3 separate regions of the Homo sapiens genome follow, and regions 2 and 3 are each linked to region 1. Evidence: fine-mapped expression QTL. A gene starts in region 1. Each other region holds a variant in brackets. All regions are shown on one strand. Distances are between the middles of the regions.

What was found. PIP is the estimated chance that this variant, and not a neighbour inherited with it, causes the effect.
Region 2: its variant is fine-mapped to the expression of PDGFRB in monocytes after LPS (Kim-Hellmuth 2017, PIP 0.95).
Region 3: its variant is fine-mapped to the expression of PDGFRB in lymphoblastoid cells (TwinsUK, PIP 0.95).

Annotation. Positions count from the first base shown.
Region 1 is chr5:150,151,641-150,159,813 of GRCh38, forward strand. PDGFRB (platelet derived growth factor receptor beta) reads right to left here and starts at 4,205. Exons shown (of 23, transcript NM_002609.4): 1 at 3,757-4,205. RefSeq lists enhancers at 925-1,445, 1,446-1,965, 6,123-6,911.
Region 2 is chr5:149,880,616-149,888,615 of GRCh38, forward strand. PDE6A (phosphodiesterase 6A) reads right to left here. Exons shown (of 22, transcript NM_000440.3): 14 at 5,650-5,759; 15 at 4,165-4,252; 16 at 3,864-3,964; 17 at 2,814-2,921. Among named protein-coding and RNA genes, the nearest start is that of PDE6A, 60 kb to the right of the region's middle. The variant T/A (reference allele first, on the strand shown) is at 3,586.
Region 3 is chr5:150,173,719-150,182,066 of GRCh38, forward strand. The region is part of intron 1 of CDX1 (caudal type homeobox 1); the gene reads left to right. Among named protein-coding and RNA genes, the nearest start is that of CDX1, 11 kb to the left of the region's middle. The variant G/C (reference allele first, on the strand shown) is at 4,759.

The sequences.
Region 1 (8,173 bases):
TTGAGGTCAGGTAGTTCGAGACCAGCCTGGCCAACACGGTGAAACCCCATCTGTACTAAAAATATAAAAATTAGCTGGGCATGGTGGCGCACACGCCTGTAATCCCAGCTACTTGGGAGGCTGAGGCAGGAGAATCACTTGAGCTTGGGAAGCGGAGGTTGCGGTGAGCCAAGATCATACCATTGCACTCCAGCCTGGGCAACAGAGTGAGACTCCATCTCAAAAAAAAAAAAAAAAAAAAGTGGGGAGAGTTTATATATCTAATTTTGAGGTTGCTGTGACGGTTTATTTATTTATTTATTTATTTTTTTTGAGACAGTCTTGCCCTGTCGCTTAGGCTCACTGCAATCTCCGCCTCCTGGATTCAAGCAATTCTAGTGCCTCAGCCTCCTGAGTAGCTGGGATACAGGTGCGCACCACCACGTCTGGCTAATTTTTGTATTTTTAGTAGAGACAGGGTTTCACCATGTTGGCCAGGCTGGTCTCAAACTCCAGACCTCGGGTGATCCACCCGCCTCGGCCTCCCAAAGTGCTGGGATTACATGTGTGAGCCACCGTGCCCAGCCTCGATGGTTAAATTAATCCAGTAAATATTTACTAAGAATGTCCTGAATGCCCAGCATGTTCCAAGTGCTGAGGAATACAGCAGCAACTTTGAGGTAACAGATGTAAAGCACAATTGAAGTAGACACAGAAAGTGCTAAGAACGAGTTGGTTCCTGTTATATCATCATGCTCACACTGCTTCCCAGCTGAGGTGCTACAAGCCCTGACCCTGGGAAGGGGCCCAACACCCCTTCCCTTCCCTCCTAACGCTCTGGGTCAGAAGACAGGGGGCACCAAAAAGATTCCCATTCCAAGAACCCACTGCCCACTGGGTTCTGAATCAAATGCAAGAAATGGGTGGGCATTTCAGAAGACCTTTTCATCCCTTTCTCCCTTCCCACTGCATTCAGCAGCAGCCTGTTCTGAGCCAATGCCCAGAGCACCCTCCTTTAGCCTAGAAGGCAGCTGGTCTCAGAGTCAGACTGTGGCCTGTGCCTGGAGGATGGACACGGATCTTTGGAACATACATGGTGTCCAGGTCCCTTCTGTGGGCAGAGCCTTTTGCAGGTTGCAGATTAATTTCACAGCCAAGTGTTCCAATGCAGGAGGCCAGGAGAGCAGTGGTTCTCTCAGCCAGTGGCCAGAGGTCCAGCTGTGAAGTGCAGGAACTGTGGTAAGCACCTTGCCAATGCTGTTGTCTCATGGAGCCCACACACGGTCCTGCTGCTCACAGAGAAGGAGATTGAGGCCCAGAGAGGCAAGGTGCTGCCCCGGGGTCACACAGTCAGCCAGAAACTGACTCGGGGTCAATGCATAGTCATCTGATGCCCAAGCCTGGTGCTGGTTACCCACAGCGCTCACTGCCTCCCAGCTGCGGAAGGAGCCCAGAGATGGGATGTGGGGGGTCTGAGGTTGGCCACACGGTGGATTTAAATCAAGCCAGGGCAAGCACTGGGTCTCCTGACTCTGGATCCACGGTGCTTTCCACTGCCTGCCCCACATGTGTGGGCAATTATAAGTCCCAGCTCTTCTTCCCGCAGAGGAGGGGGGCTGCTGATAACTGCTGTCTGGGAGGAGGGTGCTGACCAGATGGTCTCTTTCCTCTCTCAAGACCAAGCCAGGGCCCGGGCAGACCTTGGAGCAGTCAGACCTGAGGCTGCACTTTCTGCTGGGGAAGGTGCTGAAGCCAGGAGCAGGCTCTGCAGGAGGATGGAGATTCTTCCCTCTGACTGGGAGCTTCCCGGGGAGCACGAGGTAAGCCTTTAGAGTCAGGCAGACTTCAGCCTAAACACCACCTTAACTCACCGTATGGCCCTGGGAAAGTCACTTAGCCTCTCCAGATCTCAGCTTCCTCATCTACAAAAAGTAGGTAATAACACTGATTTCAAAAACTTGCCATGAGGACTCCAAGGTGTGTGAAGTACCAGGCTCTATGCCTGCATGAGGTAGGTGTTCAGGGACTGTATGTCCCTGAAGGCTGTGGATTCAGGGTCTCCTGCTTGGAGACAGGGGAGGACTGCATGACTTCAGAACTTGTCACTAGAGGCCTCTGTGCAATTGGGAGGTCACAGAGGGAAGCAGAGATACTCCTCCCTGCTTGCAATGGAGGAATGCTGCCTGGAGTAGCCACACGATGTCCTGGAAGGGCACCTGTGAGAAGGCTGGAGGCCTGGGTTCTAGTCTCACACTTGGGAGCAGAAGGTCTTCAGTGAGCTCCTCCTCCCTTTCACCAGGACATTTTTTCAGCCGCACTGCCTATCCAGGGCTGGGCACTGGGGGAAGAGCACAGGATGGGGAAACCTTAAACCTTTCCCCAGCAGAAAGTGCGGCCTCAGTTCTGACTGCTGGGGCCTGAACAATCTCTGATGAACAAACAGAACATAAACAGATCACCAACAGGGGAGGGCCAAGTAACATGGCTTCAGCACAAAGTGCATGGCTAGCACTTGGAAGACAGGAAGAACCTAGGAAGGCTGCCTGGAAGAGGTGGTGTATGGAATATCCCTGAAAGAAAAGTGATGAGGAAGGGCATTCCAGAAAGGGGGAAGAGGGAGGGCAAATGCCCACAAGCAGGATGGTGCGCATTCCTTCTGGGAATTCTGGGATCTGACTGGCGGGAACAAAAGGCCCAAGTTTGGAGTAATGGGGCACGGGGAGATTCCAACCTCTCCAGGCTGTGCCACTTACTAGCTGTGTGGCTACAGTTATGTGGCTGCGTGAGCCTCAAGTTCCTCATGTATAAAACGGAGGTAAAAACAGTCACTGCCTCTGGGGTTGCTGGTGAGCATTACATGAGATCAGTCTCATAAAGCACTCAGCACAGTTGCGGCGTGCAGTAAGTGTCAAGCAGTGGCAGCCTCTGTTAGGAGCTGGGACTTTCTCCAGGCACTGGGGAGCCATAGGCGGATCCTGGGCAGGGAGGTGGTGTGATTGGATTTATGCTTTAGAATGGCATGGAGAAGGGGTAGAGTCCAGAAGGAGGGAGACAACGAGGAGGCCTGAGCAGCTGCCTGGGACCAAAGGAAATGGCCCAGTGGCTGACCCCTTCTTCACAGAGGAGCCCCCAGATCTGACAGCCAGGTCCCAGCCCCCAGACCCAGCAGCATGACCGCTAGGGGGTTGCCATGGCCGCCCATCACCCTCGAACTTTCCTAGCCCTCAAACTTTTCTAGCTGCTGGGGGTTTAGAAGGATATCTTAAGAATCTAGAAAATTTGCAAATCCATTTAAATCCCCAGAGGTTGCCTGGCGGCTGACTGGCCTAAAGCCAGACTGATTCTTAGAAACAAGGCTTGGGCCAAGGAACAGCGGCTATGGTCCTGAGGTCCCCAGTCCCCTGCTTTCTGTGTACCCTGCCTACCTTCTCCCAATTCCCCTCTCCCGCTCTTCCCAGCTCTCCCCACTCCCCATTGACTGTGCTGTGCTTTGGAGGCCCCCAGTCAGCACCCAGAAACCCCTGAGGATTGTTTGATGAAGGCAGGAGCAGCAGGGATGATGAGGTGGAGGCCACTCACCCCAGAGCAGGGGAAAGGAGAAAACTGGCTCCTCCATCCCTGACATCACCCACAGTCTCCCAGCCTCCTCTCATCTTGTTTTGTTAAAAATATCTTCCCTTTTTTTTTTTTTTTTTTTTTTTACCTACTCGAAGAGATGCAGGTTAGGGCAAAGGGACAGGGCATGGGGCTGGGGTTCCCACTTTTTCCAGCACTTACCTTGCTGCTGATGGCTTCTGGTGTGGGCACAGTTCCAGGCTCTGGACAGTCACCCCCTCCAGGAAGTCCTCCTTACTGCCCTCTCCCAGTTATCAGAAAGACTGCTGGTCCCAGAGTGGGTAACAGCTGAGTAGAAGGACAGGCAGGACTGGTGCAGGCTCCTGAAGGCTCAGGAGAACAGAGGGATGGAGGAAGGGGGCTGCTGTAGGGGAGAGGAGCGGCCCAGCTTCGCCTCACTCCCCAAGCATCCTTCGGGAGGAGCAGAGCCGCCAGAGGGGCCGCCCTGGGTCTGGCTGTCTGCGTTGGGCAGGGCGAGCACAGGCTGCTGCTGGGCAGCAGGGCTGAGGGGCCGGCTCTCTCCTCCTCCTTGTTGATCTCCTCTCTGGCTCCAAGTTGCTCACAGAGCGATCCTGGGTCCCAGATAGGGCGGGCAGTCACTGCTGGCTGCTGGCAGCCTCAGGAGCTCACACCACTATGGGCTTCCATGCCCCCCCACTTCCCCCGCCACTTTGGGGGAAAGGCTGCAGGGTGGCTTCTGATTGGCCCAGCTGGGAGAAGGGGGGGCGGCGGGGCAGGGAGGGTGGACGCGTGCGTCTGTTTTCAATTTCAGTTTTTTTCCCCCTCTCTCTTTCTTTTCCCCCAAGTTTCTTGTTTTTCTTCTTTTCACTCTGCTTACTCCCTCCCATCGCCCGTTCGCTCAGGATGTGAGGGGATGCTTAGAAATTCCACAGCCCACGCCAGCCGCCAGCTGCTGAGTCACTTTTGTCAAAGAGTGGCCTCGGCCCCACTTTCCCGATGCCCATGTCGGGTGGCGGCCTCCCCTTGCCATGGCACCCAGGGAGATCATTTCTCAGTGCCTCAGTTTCCCCATCTGTAAAGGAGACTCTGATCATCTCTGTGGTTGATTCAGTCAACCTTCATTCATTGAACAAGCATACTGAGCATTTACTACATTCTAACACTGTACTGGGTGCAGGGGACAGTAGCAAGACGTGGTCCTGACCTCAGAAGCACCAGGCTAGTGAGCAAGATATTCATTGGGCAAGCAGGTGCCCGGTCGGCAGACAGGAGGCTGAGAGTGCATTTAGAAGGACCCCTAACGGAAGCCTGAGAGAATCAGAGAGCACTGCTGAGAAGAGGTGACATGGAGGAGATGGAAAGATCCTCCAAGATGATCAGCCGTTTTTCAGAAGGACAAACCAAGGCCCAGGGGTGAATTGGCACAGAGAGGGAATGTGATTTGGTCAAGGTCATCCAGCACAGATTGGATATCTCTGGATATTGACAGATACATTCCTTTTCACGTCTCAAAGCCCCTGGGGTGCAAGGAGAGGATTATTTGCCCCATTTTATAGATGGGGACACTGAGGCCCAGAGGAGCAAAATAAGCTTCCCAAGCTTACGCAGCAATGGCAGAGCTGGGGCAGAACTAGGTCTCATGAGACACATGATGGAAGAGACACAAGTCATCTGACCCCCACCCGAGACCCCTATTCCAGTGTAGATGAACCCCCTGCCCTGCTTTCTTCCTAGGTTCCCCCTGTGGCTCTTTCATTCAGTCACTCAACAAGATACTTTCTTTTTTTTTTTTTTTTTTTTTTTGAGATGGAGTCTTGCTCTGTCTCCCAGGCTGGAGTGCAATGGCGCAGTCTAGGCTCACTGCAACCTCCGCCTCCCAGGTTCAAGTGACTCTCCTGCCTCAGACTCCCAAGTAGCTGGGATTACAGGCGCACACCACCACACCTGGCTATTTTTGTATTTTTTGTAGAGACCGGGTTTCACTATGTTGGCCAGGCTGGTCTCAAACCCCTGACTTCATGATCCACCCACCTCAGCCTCCCAAAGTGCTGGGATTACAGGCTTGAGCCACCGCACCCAGCCTCAACAAGATACTTTCAAGTATCCGTTTTGTTCCATTTCCATTCTCTGGCTCTCCTTTCCTACCAGGGTCTGCCAAGACTCCTCCAGTTCCCCCAGCTGGGTCTCTTCTTCCACCCTCAGCTTCTCAGATCAGAAGACATCTCCAGTTACAGACTCCTAGCCCTCAGATGGCAAAGGGCATTATTTTAGAAGGGCATATAGAGTGGGCTTACCACCCCTGCTCCCACTACTGCACCCACAGGGCAACTGAATTCCAGAGGGTGAAGAAAGCTGTCCCAGGTGACACAGGTAGAGGCTGGCTCTGCCCTCCTTCCCTCTGCGCCGCTAAGTCTTTCCTCCTCAGCTTCCCCCAGACCCCTGTTCACAGAGCAGAGGATTTGCGTGAGCTGGGATTCCATGCCCACCACAGTCAACTATCTTGCATTTCTTGGTCTAGTCCCAATCGGGATTGCCCAGCAGAGCATCTGGGCTGGACCACATAGAAGGAGAAGTGTTCTCAGACTGGTTCCCAGCCACGGGTTGGGGACCATAAGAGTACCCCGAGAGAGGGGGCCTGGCCAGGTCTTTGTGGCAACAGGGAAATAGGGGAATGTGAAAAGATCCCACAGGCCACAAGGTCAGGCTTGCACAGGGATTTCTTGTGCCCAAAGATTCCGTCAGAAATTTACGACTCCCCTCCTAGCATCTGCCTGGGCCATTCACCTCTGAATCCTTGGCTGACCCTCTGCAGCCAGGCCAGCCTGGGGGAGGCCACGAGACACACCAACCCCCTAGTCCCCAAAGAAGCTAGTCTGGGAGTCAGAAGACCCAGCCACAGACTTATCAGGAGAACTTGAATAAGTCCCTTGCCCTGCCTGAGCCTCGGTTTCCCTATTTGTACATAACAGTTGTGGACTCACTGTGCTACAAGGCCCTTGGGATGGTCCGTCTGCAATTTCCCTTAGAGCTGGACTCTAGCAAGGGAGAGGAGGCTGGTGGGCCCTAGGGCAGGGGTACAGCTGGGGCCAGAGATGCAGCACAAAGGGGAGGGGCAGTTGGCGGTGGCTCCCCTGGGAAGCTGGCGGCCTCCAGTTTCCGGCCAGCCCAGCCGTCCTGAGGCCCATCTGGAATTACTTAGCCCCTACTGCCATTAACCCTTGGTGGGCACCAGGACTGTCACTCCTCCTCTCAACTGAGATATGGGTGGGAGGTGCAGAGCTACAGGGAGCAACCCAGGGCACTCACCAAGGGGCAAAATTGTCATGATTGACAGAGGAGGTTGGAGAGCTAGAGATAGAGCTGGGTTCGAATCCCAGCTGCTCCAGTTTCAAGCTACATGAGCTTAGGCAAGTCACTTAAACTCCTGGCCTTGGTTTCCTCCTCTGGAAAATGGAGACAAGTCAAAGACTGATTCATAAGACTCTTCGGTTTGTACAAAGGACTTAGTACATTGCCTCGAAGTGTACTAAGTGTACACTATTACTGAAATAGTGAGTTTCCTCATTCGAGCAGCATTCCATCACTGTGTCTTCCTGGGCGGAGCCTCCCTTTTCTGGGTCTTGGATTCCCCTTGTGCACTCTGCCTTCAGCGGCAATGGACGGGGCACATGGGCAGTGCAGCACCATCACCCTGGGGTGGTCAGCATGGCCCCCAGCCCCACTGTGGACAGGACAAGCTATGAACATCCTCACACCTACACAGATACTGGGAACCCAGTCCAGCCTTGGACAATGCTGTCTTGGGGAAGCCTGGGCTGAGAGTAGGTGGGCAGAGCATGGAATGTGGGGAGCCCTGCCTGAAGTGGACTGGGATGGGGTACAGTGGGAGAGGGGGGCTCTGGGCCTTAGGGTTCCACACTGCCTTCCCCCACAGCACGGTGGCACACTCAAGAGTTAAATGTCTGGACTCTGATGTTGGCAGCTCCAACCCAGCTCCACCACTTCCCAGCCATGTGACGCTGGGAGATGATATGACCTGAGCTCTCTGAGCCTCAGTACCTTCAACTGTGAAATGGGGACACATGTGCCTACCTCACAGGGTTGTGGAGAGACCTGAATAAGCCATGCCCACAGGCATTTTGTCAAGCCTCGAGCAAAACAAGAAAGTGCCACAAAAGGTGACTGATCCAGCTGGGCGCGGTGGCTCACGTCTATAATCCCAGCACTTTGGGAGGCCAAGGTGGGTGGATCACCTGAGGTCAGGAGTTTGAGACCAGCCTGGCCAACATGGAGAAACCCAGTCTCCACTAAAAATACAAAATTAGCTGGGTGTGGTGGTGCATGCCTGTAATCCCAGCTACTCGGGAGGCTGAGGCCAGAGAATTGCTTGAACCCGGGAGGCAGACGTTGTGGTGAGCTGAGATGGCGCCATTGCACTCCAGTCTGGGCAACAAGAGTGAAACTCCATCTCAAAAAAAAAAAAAAAGGTGACTGATCCTCAGGTGTTACCAAGAGCTGCTGTCATAGAAGTCCACCATCAGGGCTGGAGGGAAGCTCACCAACATGCTCATTACACAGCCGGTATGACTGAGGCCAGTGATGGAAAGGAACTTGTGCA
Region 2 (8,000 bases), 270 kb before region 1:
GGCAGGAGAAGCCCTTGAACTCGGGAAGTGGAAGTTGCAGTGAGCCGAGATTGCATTCCATCCTGGGCAACAGAGCGAGACTCCATCTCAAAAAAAGAAAAGCACAAGCAAAAGTCAATAAATAAATAACCAAAATGAGATACTGTCTGGCACCAGTCACAATGGCAATTATTAAAAAGTCAAAAGAAGGCTGGGTACTTTGGAAGGCTGAGACAGGCAGATCACTTGAGGTCAGGAGTTTGAGACCAATCTAGCCAACATGGTGAAACCCCGTCTCTACCAAAAAATACAAAAAAATTTAGCTGGGAATGGTGGCGGGTGCCTGTAGTCCCAGCTACTGTGGAGGCTGAGGCACGAGAATTGCTTGAACCCAGGAGGTGCAGGTTGCAGTGAGCCGAGATCGTGCTGCTGTACTCCAGCCTGGGTGACAGAGTGAGACACCGTCTCAGAAAAAAGAAAAGAAAAGAAAAATCAAAACATAACAGATGCTGGTAAGGCTGTGGAGAAAAAGGAATCCTTATGCACTGCTGGTGAGAATGTAAACTAGTTCAGCCACTGTGGAAAGCAGTTTGGAGTTTCCTCAAAGAACTTCAAGTAGAATTACCATTCGACCCAACATCTCATTACTGGGTGTGTATCCAAAAGAAAACAAAGAGTTCTACCAAAAAGACACATGCCCTAACATGTTCATCACAGCACTATTCACAATAGCAAAACATGGAATCAACCTAGGTGCTCATCAACGGTGGATTAGATAAAGAAAATGTGTTCCATACGTGCCATGGAATACTACACAGCCATAAAAAAGAACAAAATCATAGCCTTTGCAGCAACAGGGATGGTGTTGGAGGCCATTATCTTAAGCAAATTAACACAAGAATGGAAAACCAAATACTGCATATTCTCACTTACAGGTGTGAGATAAACATTACATATACATGGACACAAAGATGTCAACAATAGATACTGGGGACTACACAAGGGGAGACGGAGGAGAGTGTGGGCCAGAAAACCACATACTGAGTGCTATGCTCACTACCTGCGTGAGGATCGTTTGTACCCCAAACCTCAGTGTCACACAATATACCCATGTAACAAACCTGCCCATGCATTCTTTAATGTATAATAAAAGTTGAAATTATAAATAAATAAATGTGGCTGGACGTGGTGGCTCACACTTGTAATCTCAACACTTTGGGAGGCCAAGGAGGGTGGATGGCTTAAGCTCAGGAGTTCAAAACCAGCCTAGGCAACATGGCAAAACCTGTTTCTACCAAAATTACAAAAATTAGCCAGGTATAGTGCGTGTGCCTGTAGTCCCAACTACTAAGGAGGCTGAGGTGAGGGGATTGCTTGAGCCTGGAAGGTTGAGGCTGCAGTGAGCCCTGATCGCCACTGCACTCCAGCCTGGGCAATAGAGCAAGACCCTGTCTCAAAAATAAATAAATAAATAAATAAATAAATAAATAAATAAATAAAATGTCCAGGGGGGCAGCTCCTGGCCAGTCTATGAGTAACTGTGGGCTGAGCATGCCCCCTTGTTCAGTGAAAGCAGATTGCACTGCTCCCAGAATCAGGGGACCTTTGTGGGAGGCCTGGTTGGACAACTGCAGGGCTGAAGGAGTGGCAACTTGCTGCTGCCCCCCCCGTTTCCGGAGCCTGTCCCAGTGGTCTCCTCTTCTCTGTTGCAGACATTTGCAATGCTTGTGACTTAATCAAGCCTCATTTCCACAGAAGCATCTGGGGATAAACAAATAACCCAATGCTTCCTAGGCAACTAGTCAGCCTTGTCTCCCCTGCAACTTTTCCTGACCATTGCCTTCAATGCCCAGGACCCATCACAGAGGAGCCAGGGGACCATTTGGCTTGGGCCACATATTCATAAAAGGCCTCAAATTTACACTTCTCACCCCATTGTCAATTGAGGTGAATCATGGAAGCACACTGAGAAAACTGAAAAAAGACATTCACCAGACAACTTAAATTTGAGTCCCATTACCAACCATGCCAGACCATGCACTGTAAATTTCATACCAACCATAACCAATTTGTGACTAGCACAGCTATATTGTGGGATATTGTCCTATGTAAAGGAATACGTTAAAAATTAAGCCTATATGTTTTGAATAACACATTAACTATCACTCAAACTTTAATTCGGGCCGGGCATGATGGCTCACGCCTATAATCCCAGCACTTTGAGAGACAGAGGTGGGTGTATCACTTGAGGTCAGGAGTTTAAAACCAGCCTAGGCAACATGGCAAAACCCGGTCTCGACTAAAAATACAAAAATTAGCTGGGCGTGGTGGTGGGTGACTGTAATCCCAGCTACTAGGCAGGCTGAGGCAGGAGAATTGCTTGAACCTGGGAGGCGGAAGTTGCAGTAAGCCGAGATCGCACCACTACACTCCAGCCTGGGCGACAGAGCGAGACTCTGTCTCAAAACAAAAAACAAAACAAAACAAAAACCCCTTAATTGCTATAGTGCTTTCCGTTGTATCAAAAACTTAAAAGTTATATCAGTTTACCACCCAAATCTTAGATATTATGATTGAACTACTTCAAATAACATATTTTTTTATTCAGATAAATAAAACAATAATACACTGTCTTGCATTTTTAGTGCTAAAATAAAGATTAAACATGTGGCTTGTGCAATTGGAATTTGGCATAACTTCATTTTTTTCATATGTTGAAGGCCTCCAAAATGAAATAGTCCCAAGGCTTGTTGAGGGCAGCAAGAGCTGTCAGTGCATCTCGCCTCATGATCCTAAGCCTAAGAGGATCAGGTTTTAACCCCATCCCAACTCACATAACGATTTCCTTCCGTGTCTGCTCCAGCATCATGTACTGTGTCCACTCCTGTTCACTCTCATATGTCTTAGACTGATCCACGATCTTTTGGAACATCGTCCTCTTCCTACAAAACATATCAGTCTAGTAAAGGGAGCAAGTCTTAGAATAAGGCAACACCTGAGCTGCTAACATTGGCTGATTCAGATGGAGCCTTATTAAATCAACAAAATTCACAAAACAAGGTTGAAAGAGCCAAGGCCCAGGAGTGAAGACCTAGGTTTAACCTAAGTCTCTGCCACTGATTTGTTATCTACTCTTAGCAAATCTCTTGTCCTGAATCTCAGTGTTCCCATCTGTACAGCGGGGGTAATGATATCTAACTCACAGGCTTGTAGCAAGAATCAATGTGTCCATAACACACGTGTTGTGCCTGACACATAGTATATGCTAAATTAATTGGAACTATGATGTTTGTTATTATTATTGTTATTATATTGTTGCTGGGTGCAGTGGCTCATGCCTGTAATCCCAATACTTTGGGAGGCTGAGGCAGAAGGATGGCTTGAGACCAGGAGTTTTAGATCAGCCTGGGTAACATAGTGAGAACCCATCTTTACAGCAAATTAAAAAATTATCCAGGAGTGGTGGTGTTCCTGTAGTCCCAGCCACTCAGGAGGCTGAGGTGGGAGGATCCCTTGAGCCCAGGAAGCAGTGAGCTGTGATGGTGCCACCGCACTCTAGCCTGGGCAACAGAGTGAGATCCTGTCTCAAAAAAGAAAAAAAAAAAA[T/A]ATATATATATATATACACACACACATATATATGTGTAGATATATGTGTATATATATGTGTATATATATGTATATATGTGTATATATGTGTATATATGTATATATGTGTATATATGTATATATGTGTATATATGTATATATATGTGTGTATATATGTGTATATATGTATATATGTGTGTATATATATGTGTATATATGTATATATATGTGTGTATATATATATATGCATACATATAATCATTGTTGCTTTTACTATTAGAATGAGAAGATATACCAACTTGAAATACAGGGCGAGGTCTGTGGCAATGATTGCAATGTCCATCATGTGGATGGCATGCTCATGCTGTCGACGATTGAGGTTTTGAAAGATATTCAGGCTCTAAAGAAAAAAAGAGAAGCGAGATGGGAGAGAATTGATGCTGGCAGTAAAGTCACCCACCTACCAATGGCCACCCCAGATGATGGCAGAGGCAGCCCAGGCCAATGGGAAGAATGCTCCCTGGGCACACTCAGGCTCCTTGTGAAATAGAGCCTCTGATCCAGGCCCCGCGGCCTGTAGACCCTTGGCCCTCATCCTACCTCGTCTCTGAGCAGTGTTTTGCCAAACTCCAAGTGGTGTCTTTCCAAGATAGAGGACCCATGGAGCTTGGCCAGTGGGTTCTGGGATCTGAATGAGAAAGAGAGAGAATCAATATGGAGTGGACAATAGAAAATTAGGACTAAACATCAAGTCTCCTGACTCAGTCTTCAGCCTTCTCCACAAGTGATTCCGAGTTACTTTTGGGTCGTGAACTCATTAGAGAATCTACTAAATAGCATGGACCCCTTCCCCAGAGAAAGCCACAAACACACACAATGCCATAAGGGATTTTAGGGACATTAGCACTGGGCCATGCTTCAAGATCATCTAGCCCTGATTCTTCACATCCAAGTCTTGAAGGAAACAACTGAATTTCCGCAAGCCGTGTATTTATTCATTTCTGCATTCAATAATTATTTGTTGAGCACTTGCTATGTGCCACACACTGTGCTAAGTATTTAGATTCTCAAAATGTAAAATGTAAACCCAATCTCTAGCCCCAGAGCAGCATGAAAGTATTGAGAAGACTCAGCAGCATGAATTCAGAGCTTGTTAATGACTTACAGGCCATCGGCCCTGAGCGGAGACTCAGTTTTCTCATCTGTAAGTAGGGATAACATTAGCCCCTGCTCTGCCCAGCCCACTGGGTGGTTGTGAGGATCCAATGAGATCATGGTTCAAGGACTATGCTTTATGGGCTGTCTGAAATATAAGCTCTGTAAGGACAGGAGCTGTTTTGCTCATCAGAGCACCTTTTTTGCCTGGCATAGAGCCTACCACACTATATTAGAAGCACTGTAAATACGAGATGAGTGAATGAACCATTACTGGTTATTAACATCTTGGCTCAAATTAGTGCAGCAGGTAGGACAAGGAAGGAGACAAGTACAGGAGTTTAATGCATTCATTTTCTATGGCTGCTATAACAAACTGCCACAAACTTAATGGCTTAAAGCAATAAAATTTATTATTTTACAGCTCTGTATGGAGTCTGAAATGGGTCCTTAGGGCTGCTTTCCTTCTGGAAGCTCCAGAGGAGAATCCGTTTCCTTGCTCTTTTGAGCTTCTAGAGGCCACCTGCATTCCTTGCTTGTAGGCCATGCCTCCATCTTCAAAGCCAGCAGGGTAGCATCTTCTTTCCTCTCTGACCTCTTGCTTCCCTCTTATAAGGACCATTGGGACTACATGGGGCCCACTCGAATGAATAATCCCTGTATCTCAAGATCCTCGACTTAATCACATCTGCACAGTCCCTTTTGTATGTAAGGCAACATATTCCCCAGCTCAGGGATTTGAGATCTGGACATCTTTGTGGTGGTCATTATTCTGCCTGCTACAGGAGGAGACCCGGATCCCAAGGGCAGAAGGCGGTGGGAAGCTGTGGACCACAAGACTTCCCTGTTGGCCAGTGAGTCTGCCTGGGAGCCACACAGAGCTGGATAATGAATCCGGAGGGTTGGGTGTGGGGAGGGAGGCTGACTCACTTCATCTGGTAGAGGTTATTGGTGCCTCTGTGGTCAATGTCATGGCAGAAAGCAGCAGTGACCATGGCCAAGGCCTCTAGGTCCGTGAAGTAGCGCTTCAGCTTTCCCGTCTGGAAGGGCAATCAGAGTGCAAATCATTCCTTTTGTGTAGGGGCTGGAAGCAGGGCTGAAAAGGCGGGTGTAAGGAGGAGGGCCCAGAACTAAAAAACTCATGGGTCTGATCTTGGCTGTATCCTGGCTCCAGAGGCTGACCAGAGGACTGCCCAGGGCTGAGGGGTTTTTTGGATATGGGACTTTCAGTGCTAGAATGGGGAAAGTCCCAGGTAAATGGGAACAACTGGTCACCCTATTTCTGAGTTGACCTTAGCTGGTCTCATCTCCCTCTGAACCTCGGTAGCCCAATCTCCATAATGAGGGTCGAGCATATTGGATCAGATGAATTTTGAGAAACTTGTAGAAGTCAGGTTTTAGGATTTGGAGAGTTTCTGAACATGGCCAGGCTGGTAAAGCAAATCTTCCAAACGTGGTCTACTGGTTTAAGCACAGCCTGGAGGAATCCTTCCCTGGGATTTTGCCAGACACTTAACTCCTTGTTGATGCTGGGTGTTGAAACCAAATGTGGGAAAGTGCTCTGGAGAGCTGATGCTGACTTTATGAAAGCAATCACTCTAAGTGGTGTTCCTGTCACCCTTTAAGGTAGCCTGGTCAGAATTCCTGCTTCCGGGCCCTAGCACCTACTCTGGCCTGACCATTTCAGCCAAGGGGGAAGGGATGATGTTGAGGAAGGGCAGGGATTTGCATCATGATCTGGATGGGGAAATAACTTGAAATAAAACATAAAAGTCTCCGAACCCTCTCAGTGAAAAATACGAACACAAATACACAAAGATAAGTCCATCCAAGGATATTGTGGCACTGTTTGTAATAGTGAAAGATTGAAAAGACTTCCAAGTCCAACAATAGAACACTATGCAGCCACAAAATTGTATCATGGATAAGCCTCAAAAATGTTATGTTAAGTGAAATATGCCAGACACGAAAGGACGAATACTGTATGATTTCACCTCACTGTATATGAGGTGCATAGAATAGTCAAGATGAAAGAAACAAAAAATAAGACAGGGCCAGGCATGGCAGGTCACACATGGCAGCACTTTGGGAGGCCAAGGTAGGAGGACCACTTGAGCCTAAGAATTCAAGATCAGCTTAGGCAACACAGCCAGACCCTGTCTCTACAAAACTAAAAATTTATGTGGACATGGTGGCACATACCTGTGGTCTCGGCTACCTGGTGTTAGTCCCAACTGCACCATTTTGTAAGCTCCCCATTATTTTGCAGACCTTGGTCAAAGTGAAACATTTCATGGGGGTTTGGGTCGGGAGAAACAGCCTTCCTAACCACCTGACCACAAGGCAGACAAAGGCCCAACTAAAGAAACATTCCTATCATATCTTGCTGGGCAAAAGTCCAAGAAACACCACAATGGCATCCCACCGAGACAAAAGCAAAACCGCCTCATCATGAGAACATCTTATCAATAGCCTGCCAGGCAACAAGCCATACTGCCCAGACCCCTCCCGCCCATACCTATAAGTACCACCAGCCTGTAAGCAGCGGTGGGCTCTGGCATTAGGCTGGTTCCTACTTCTGTAGATTTTATGCTGGGCGTAAAGCCTGCATTTGCTCTTGAGCCGCCCTCTTTCTGTGTGTGTGTGTGTGTGTGTCTTTCTTTAACCCTCGCCTTCCCTTCAAAACCTAACATGTGGGAGGGTGAGGTGGGAGGATCGCTTGAGCCCAGGAGGTCAAGGCTGCAGTGAGCCGTGTGTTCTCAGCACTGCACTCCAGCCTGTGTGACAGAGCAAGATCATATCTCAAAAGTAAAAAAAGATCTAAGAGGATAGAGATTAAATGTTGCCTCCTCTACAATTTCTTATTACCAAGAGACTAAAAATATTTGGGACTGTTACTAAAAATTTTCTGTGCCACAGTGACAGATTGTACTATGGGGAACTACATGCTTCTAGAAATTATTATTCACAGACGATTGATCTACAGATTGCTGGTGTGACAGACAGTTCACAATTTTTGCTTGCTTCCTAGTGTTCACTGGAAATTAAGGTCACTAAGGGTTAAGAATTCTAATTAATATAAGGATATATTAACATATATTAATATATATTTCTTTATTTAGAATTCTTAACACATAATTAATATGTTATTTATAATATATTAATAACTAATAATTAATATATTATTAATAAAATAATAAGGGAAACAATTCTATAAGCAATTATACAAGAGGGCAAAAACTGCTTTTGGTAAGAAAAAGCTATAAGATATGAGGATGTTT
Region 3 (8,348 bases), 22 kb after region 1:
CATTTTTTCAAATGCAAGATTTCTGTCCCCGGAACAGCACATTTCTTCTCCATCAAATGAGTGGCTGGACTAAGCTTTAGGAGCAATGGAGATGGACAGAAGGCTGTGCTTTGGAGGCTGAGCCACCAGCTGCTGGAGTGGACTTGGGGAGCAAGGGAGACAGGACTGAGAGGTGCCACCTTGGCTTTTGATCTGAATGGCTGGAGGATGGAGGTGCTGTTTATTGAGTTAAAGAAGCAGAGGAAGTAGCAGGTTTGTTTTATGTATTCACCAAGGATTCATCAAGTACTCACTGTGTGTGTCAGGCACGTGATAGGTGCTGGTGAGCTAAATGGCATGGCCCTACCCTCAAAGAGCATTCAGGGAGCCAAGGCCTAAGGGGAGGGTCTTCACCAAGGTCACACAGCCAGCTAGGGGTAGGAAGGGGCTGGAGGCAGAGCCCCTCACTGCAGCCCCACCTCGAACGTGAGACTTCGGGAGCCACACCTACAGTGGAGTAGCAAGGGCTTCACTCTCAGACTAGTCTAGTGGAAGATGGCCAGGGGGGCAGTGGCCTGGAAACTCCACCAGGAAACAGTTCAGAGAGGCCTCAAGTTCTTCGGCCTCAGAGAAGACCTGAAGGGATGCAGTTGCTGTTTGTAAATCTTAAATGGCTGTCTTGGGCTCAGGGTGCCCCTGTGGAAAAACTCAGGAAGGATATAAATGGGTGGCAGATGCAAGAACTGGCTGCTTTGCAGCTAGTAGGCGTGTGCTGCAGTGTGGGCGTCCGGACCCTGGTAGGAGTTTGATCTAGCAGCGTTTGTCCAGTAGGACTTTCCGCCAGGATGGAAATGCTCTGTATCTGTGCTGTCCAGTAGGCAGCCACCAGCTGCACATGGCTGTTGAACACTTGAAATACAGCTAGTGTGACTGAGAAACAGAATTTTATATTTTATTTAATTAATGTGGCTAGTTGCTGTCATATTGGACAGTGCAGAAAAATCTCTCTCAAGAGTTCCCAGAATGGAAATCCATTCTGCATAAGCTCCTTGTTCTTGCATTGAGGAATCTCTCCTGCCTTTTTTTTTTTTTTCCTGAGATGGAGTTTTGCTCTTGTCGCCCAGGCTGGACTGCAATGGCGCAATCTCGGCTCACTGCAACGTCCGCCTCCTGGATTCAAGCGATTCTCCTGCCTCAGCCTCCAGAGTAGCTGGGATTACAGGCACACGCCACCACGCCCAGCTAATTATTGTATTTTTAGTAGAGACAGAGTTTCATCATGTTGGTCAGGCTGGTCTCGAACTCCTGACCTCAGGTGATCCACCCACCTCAGCCTCCCAAAGTGCTGGGATTACAGGCATGAGCCACCTCGCCTGGCCTCTCTCCTGCCTCTTTCAGCTTCTTTGTCTCTGTAGTATCATCATCATCATCATAGTTTTTATTAATAAGTACTTTGTTAAGTAGGTTATTACTTTGGTCTCCATAACTACCATATAAAGAAAGTATTCATGTCTTCATTTTAAAGATAAATAAACTGAAACTCAAAGAGGTCCAGCAACTTGCCTGGGGACATACCACTGGCACATGGCCAGACTGGGGGAGAGCCACCGGTCTCTGTCTGACTCTAAAGTCCCTTCCTCTTTGTTACCTCCCAAAGCTGGGTCAGATTGTGGACCTTGATGAAGAAGATAGGGCAGCAGATGATGCAAAGGTGGCCCTGGAGGAGGAGGGTGCAGAGATGATGAAGAACTCTAACTAGGAAGGAGGGTGACAGTGGGGAGGAGAATCTGGCTAAGGCTGTAGGACTCCCAAAATGGCTGGCCTGGCCATTGTCCCCCTTTCCCCGCTCCCATGCCAGCTTCATCCCTGCTCAGGGCTTGAGTGAGGAACCATGATATTAGCAGCCGGGGACTGCCAGATCAGCCAAGACAAGGACCCAACTGTGGGTCAGGCAGAAAGCCTGATGTCCCAGGAAGGGTATCCATCCATTGTAGAGCTGGTGAGGTTAGGGCACAGTGGAGAGCCCTCCCCCTGGTGGTACAGATGGGGAAACAGGCCCAAATAAGGGATCACATGTCCAGCTGGTGGGCCGGCCAGATCTCCCCACTCCCAGGTCAGTGTGTTCTTGGCCCTATGGCTCCCCATTAGGCGACATTCCTCTCTCTCACGAGGGACTCCACCAACATGCTCACTTCTGCAAATAGCTGTTTTCTCCTTTTTGTCTCCATAGCTTTTTACCCTTTCCAGACTGCTCTCACAGCCATTCTGTTCCCCAGGCAGGGGAAGGAAAGCCCAGGGAAATTCAGTCACTTGTCAAGTCCTTCAACTAAGATGACCAGGCTGGACCACAGTCCAGGTCTCTGCCACCAGGCAAGGTCTAGAAGCTCGCCCCAAACACCCAGCCTTTCCCAAACCTCAGTAGAGTGTGACGCTGCTACAATTTAGGCCCCTCACCAGAAGTGCCACCACCTCTGAGCTGGCCCACAGCCTGCCACCCTTGCAGCGCTCCTACAAGTATTATCTGGGGTGAGATCAGTCCTCCTGAGCCCCTCTTTCCCACCCTTTCCTTTGCCTATTGGCCTTGCAGTCATCCACAGCAAGTGACCTATAAGCTCTCTGGACTTGCTTCCTTATCTTGGAAAAGGGGGCTCTTTGCAGTAGCATTCTATGGCTACCCTATTCCCACCTCCCCTGAGCCCCCTCCTGCCAAAAGCCCTATGCCCTTCGTTTGTCATTCCTAGGCTGGCATCACAGACACGGGTGAGCTCCCCATCGCCTGTTGCTGCATGCAGTGTGGGTCTCTGAGGGACTTGGCTGGAGGGCGTGTGGGGCAGGTGCTCCCTGTGGGGGTTGCCTGGGGTGGCAGGCAGCAAGGTGGCAGGGGGGGCCAGGAGGTCTGATCTTTAAGGGAAGGCTCAAAGCTGCACAAAGGGCTCAAAACTGCAGAGTCTCGAGGGCACTTGGACTGGTGCACAGGCTAAACCAATGCCCAGAGGAGAGGAGGAACTAATTCTAGGCCACACAGATGGCATGGAACTGGGACCAGGACCCACTGACTTTAGCTGGTGGTTTAGAATCCACAGGGGCCTCGTTAAAGATGACAGAGAAATTAGGATGTGGTAGATCTGGAGTGGGGCCTGGGAATCTGCATTTTCAGCAAGCCCTTGTGTGTACAGACGTGCATGCCTGTTTGCATGTGTGTGTTGGGGTTAGGATCTTGAAGCACAGCCAGCTGGGGCTGGACCACCCAGGGAGGAGTCACAAAGGTTTTCAGAGCTGGATTTGTGGTCCAGGCCTTGGGGGGCCAAAGCTGGTCATCCACCAGGGCCACACACCCGGCAGGAAGAGGGCAAAGGAAGTGCTGACCTAGGGGCCATTTGATTGTGCTGGAGCAGAGGCCACACTCTGTCCTTGCCTGGCCCAGGCTGGATGGGGAGCCCCCACTGCAGGCCACTGTGGCTCCTGTCCCCATCCTCCCCCCGGGCAGGCCCAGTGTCTAGACTCTCAGACTGAAATTGGTCTTAGAATTCTTTCAGCTACAATAACAAACACAATCAGAGAATCAACAAACATTGGGAGGTTCACGTTTCCAAGTTGGAAGGGACCTTATAAGTAAACGGTCATTTCTAGCAGACCGCCCATTGCACAGATCCATTCCCTGGCATTCCTGCCAGATGGTCATCCCACAACTGTTGGAAATGAGTAAGATCTGCCCTTCCCCATGCACCTCCTGCATGCTAGACATTGTCCATCTATCTCAAGTGAGCCCCTGTATGCCGCAGGGTTGGAGAGAACTACAAGAAACCTTGTACCATTTGATTGATAGGTTCTACTGCTGTTTCTGAGGCCAGATAGACCTGGTTTTGAATCCCACCTGCCTGATGCGTGGTCCTCTCTGACCCTGAGTTTTCTCATCTGTAAAATAGAGTGATAGTTGCCCAACTCCACGGGTCATTGAGAGATGTATACAAAGGGCCCAGCACATGGATGTGTTGGCTATTATTAGAATATTAATTTTCCCCATTTTACAAATACAGAAAATGAGGCTCAGAGAGGTGGGGAGACTGTCCTAGGTTACCCAGCCAGTGAGCAGCTGCACTCCACAACCCCAGAGGTTTAGTTTTAATGACATCCAGGAGCTCTGGGCTGGAACTCCTGACTGCCCCGAGACACCTCTGGAGTCACAGAGTGTACCTCTGTTGGGCTCCACAGCCCCTCTCCAGAGCCCAGAGAAGGGTGACAAGGTCTGTGGGCCAGGTCTTCACCGGCAGCCTTGCCAGGACAGAGAGGAGTAATTATGGAGCTAAAGCCCAACCAACCACACGTTAGGGTCACCTGGAAAACTATTCAAGTACCAAATTTTGAGACCCATTCTAGCGCCACTAAATTTGAATTTCTGGGGCCAGAATCTGCACTGTGAAAAAGCTTCCCAGGCAGTTCCAAGGCTGCTGGTCAGGCACTGGGAGCCATTGGCCTGTACCGTGCATGCATTAGGGGACGGGAGTTTGCTACCTCTCATGGTGGCCTAATCCACATGGATGGGACATTCTGCGCATCCCAAAACTGGAGAGAGAAAGCCTCCCATTTCGGTGAGTTACCCAAGGCTCTTCCCCTCTGTGCTCACCCCTGAAGAGCTGAGGGGGCTCCCCATTCTCCCTCCCACCCATTCACACTGGCATCTGGCCCAGAGGATTACTTATTAGGTGGCTGGGAGTGGCCCGCCCCTCAGCAGACACCTGTTATAGGAGCCTGGACTTCCCCCTTAGCTCCAGCGTCCCA[G/C]GGGCCTGTAAATAATTCATCCCCAGCCCTCTCCCCACCCCACTGCTCTCACACACCTCCCTGCCCGCTCCTTCCCAGGCTCCAGAGGTATCTTGGGGCAGTTGGGAGTTCCAGCCCAGAGCTGGGACTGGAGCCCAGGGCTCCTGGGGCTGTCATTAAAAATACAAATTAACACATACACTTGATAAAGATTTAAAAAACCCAAAGTCTCCCTCCTACCTGTGGCTTTCCAACCTCCAGTGCCCTCTCCAGAGGCAGCCCCTATTACTGGCTTCTTGTATATTCTTTCAGAAAGAACTATGTTTGGGTATGTGTGTGTCTCCCCCATTTTTATACACAAATGGTAACATACTATTTACACTATTCTGTCTTGCTTTTTTTTTCACACGTCTTAGAAATTGTTCCATACTGGGATATATGGGGTTTTGAAATTTCTTTTTAATGACTGCATAATGCTCCTCTCCACGAATGCACCATCCCTTCTCTCACCAGCTCCCTGCTTGTACACGTGTACATTGTTTTTTGTCTTGTGTTATCAGAAACAGATGGAGCTTTGGGCAGCTCTTGGTCGGATCAGTTACTGGAAGTGGGATTCTTCGGTCAAAGGGTATGTGCCTGTTAAATGAGGCTAGATATCGCCAAGTTGGGCGCTAAGGAGGATGTTTCAGTTCTCACTCCTGGAACAGCATATGGGATTCCCTGGTTTCTGAGCCACACGGTGTGATAGCAAACATTTTGTTCTTTGGCAGAGCCATTTTCTTGCACGAAAATTGTGTGTTTCAAGCAGCTCCACCAGAGAGAAGTTGGCCAATGGGTTCCTGAGCCCACCAGCTCCTCTCCAGAGCCCAGAGAGGAGTGACAAGGCCTGTGGGCCAGGTCTTCACTGGCAGCCTTGCCAGGAGAGAGAGGAGTAATTGTGCAGCTAAACCCTATCTCCATCTGGTCTCACTCCTGACCCCCTCCCTTGTGGAAGAGCTGGGCCTGAGGTCAGAAACCTGAGTCCTGGTTCATACCATGACCAGTCAGGACAGCCCTCTGCAAGTGCCCTTTCTGAGCCCATTTCCCCCCACCTATGAAATGGCTCTCATGGGTCTGGGCTTGCTCGTCAGAAGAGGCAGGAGTGGGTGCTAGGACTCTAAGGAAAAAGCACCTTCAGGACCACTGCCTGTCATCCCTAGGCGAAGGTCTGGGTGGGCAGGGAGCCTCATGCCCTACCTCAGGCCTGTCCTCCTGGGGGTGGCTGTGAGTCCTCTGGGCATTTTAAGGGCCCCCAGCCTGGGGCTCTCAGTAGCCTTCCCTCACCATGGTCTGGGCTCTCCTTTCCCAGAAGTAGCAATGGAGGGGTGGTCTGCTATTTAAGCTTCTGTTACCAACACTTTGGGGGCTCCATGGCAGGCTCAGTGGGCCCTAAATTTGGCAGCATGCGGAATTGTACCCTGGAGAGGCAGCAAGAGCTCTAGGGCATGGGGCATGGCCTTGGGCAGGCCCGTGCCTGCCTGGGCCTCAGTGACCCTGACTACACAGGGAGGTAGGACTGGAAGGGCTCACCAGGCCTCTTCTTTGGCCCTCCAGCTGCCATGCAACCATTGTGAACCCCGATCTCTTCCTCAGTAAAGTGCGAGGAGACTAAACTCTCACAACCGCTTCCAGCTTTAGCCCAGTGAACCCAATGGGTCTGTGGATTCAGAGCCATGTTGGCCTCCAGTGCTGGTGGCATTAGGCAGAACTGTTTTTGAGCCGGCGTTGCATTTTCTAGGCCAAGGAGGGGCCCAATCTGGAGCCAAGGCCTGGGCAGCCACTCCCTTATCCCTTTCCTGGGGCCAAACCTGGCTGAAGTCCGAGGCTATCCCGTGCTATGCTGGGCAGCGGACTGAGGTCAGTGGACATGGAAGCGTCCAGTGTGGTTCCTCTGCTCTGGCAGGAAACCCAGGGAAAAGCTGCCCAGGAACATCTGCTGCCTCCCATTCTCCACAAAGCCATTTGGCTCACGGAGAGCCCAGTGGCTGTCCTGCCAAGCTGCGTGGGCTTGGTGGAGGGGGACAGGCGTCAGAATGGGGGCGGGTGAGTGGTTAGTACAGGGGTGCTGAGGGACAGGCAGGGCCAGGGCTGAAACCCAAGAAGATGAAGGCTGGGCTGTGGTGGGGACACTTGCGAGAGGCGGGAGGGGTTGATGGTCTTTCAGAGACCCGCCATGCCCTGGTGGGAGCGTGTGCGGGTCTGGAAGTGCTTGCGTGCGCCTCCTATTTATAGCCACGTGCTCAGCTTCTTATAAAGGAAACTGGTGCTTAGCCAGGCCCCACACAAGCCCAGGCCAAGCATGACTCTTAGTATTCTCTCCAGACAGACCTCTGATCCCAGTCCCAAAGAAAGTCCTGACATTAACCTCAGCTGGTCCTCAAATCCAGCTCTGGGCCCCAGGCTGAGCCTCATAAAGAAGCCAAGGCACCGCCCTCTCTCCTGGGTTACGGCAGCTCTCCCTGCACTTCCCCTTCCTCTTGCAAATCTGTTCTCCATGCAGTAGCCAGAGTAATATTAAAACCTACATCAGACTTCATGTCTCCTCTGCTCAGAATCCTGCAATGGCTCCTGTCCCAGACAGAGGAAAACCCAGAGTCCCTCCCCTTGTCTCCTGTCCCGTCCCCCTTCTCACTGCACCTCAGCTCCACCAGCTTCCTCACAGCTCCTCACTGTCAGACAGCAGGCAGACAGCAGGCATGCCCCACCTCGGGGCCTTTGCACTTGCTGTTCCCTCTGCCTAGAAGCCTCTCCCCAGATGTCTGCATGACTCTTTTTTTTGTTTATTTTTCTTGAGACGGAGTCTCACTCGATCACCCAGGCTAGAATGCAGTGGTGTAATCCTGGCTCACCACAACCTCCACCTCCCAGGTTCAAGCAATTCTCCTGTTTTCCCGCCTCAGCCTCCTGGGTAGCTGGGATTACAGATGTATGCCACCACGCCCGGCTAATTTTTGTATTTTTTAGTAGAGATGAGGTTTCACCATGTTGGCCAGGCTGGTCTTGAACCCCTGACCTCACGTGATCCACCTCCCTCAGCCTCCCATAAAGTGCTGGGATTACAGGTGTGAGCCACCGCGCCTGGCCCTACATGACTCTTTCCTGTACCTCCTTTACACCTTTGCTGAAATTCCCCTTTTCAGCAAGGCCTTCACGGCCCATTCTATTTAAAATCACAGACCACCTCCTCCCTAAATTCCCAGTCCTCCTTCCCTGCCTCCTTTTCTTCTGAAACACTTATCAACTAGTGTATCAAATATTTTATGTTTATTTTTCTTTTCATCATCTCCCTCCCCTAGAAGCTAAGCATCACGAGGGCAGGGGTTTTATTTTGCTCAGTGCTGTAGCCCAGAGCTTGGCTCACAGCAGGAGCTCAGTGAGGATCTGTGGGATGAGCTGCATCTCTCCTGCCCGGTGCCTGGACACAGGGGGATGTGTGGACGGCTTGGGCAGACCAGCCTCCGGCCTCTGGTGCAGGCCCAGCTCAGGGCTTGGTATCGTGAGCCAGAGCCTTTGAGGTAACTGGCAGGTCCTAGGGGTCCAGCAGCAGCCCCAGTCCTCCCTGTCTGATGTTG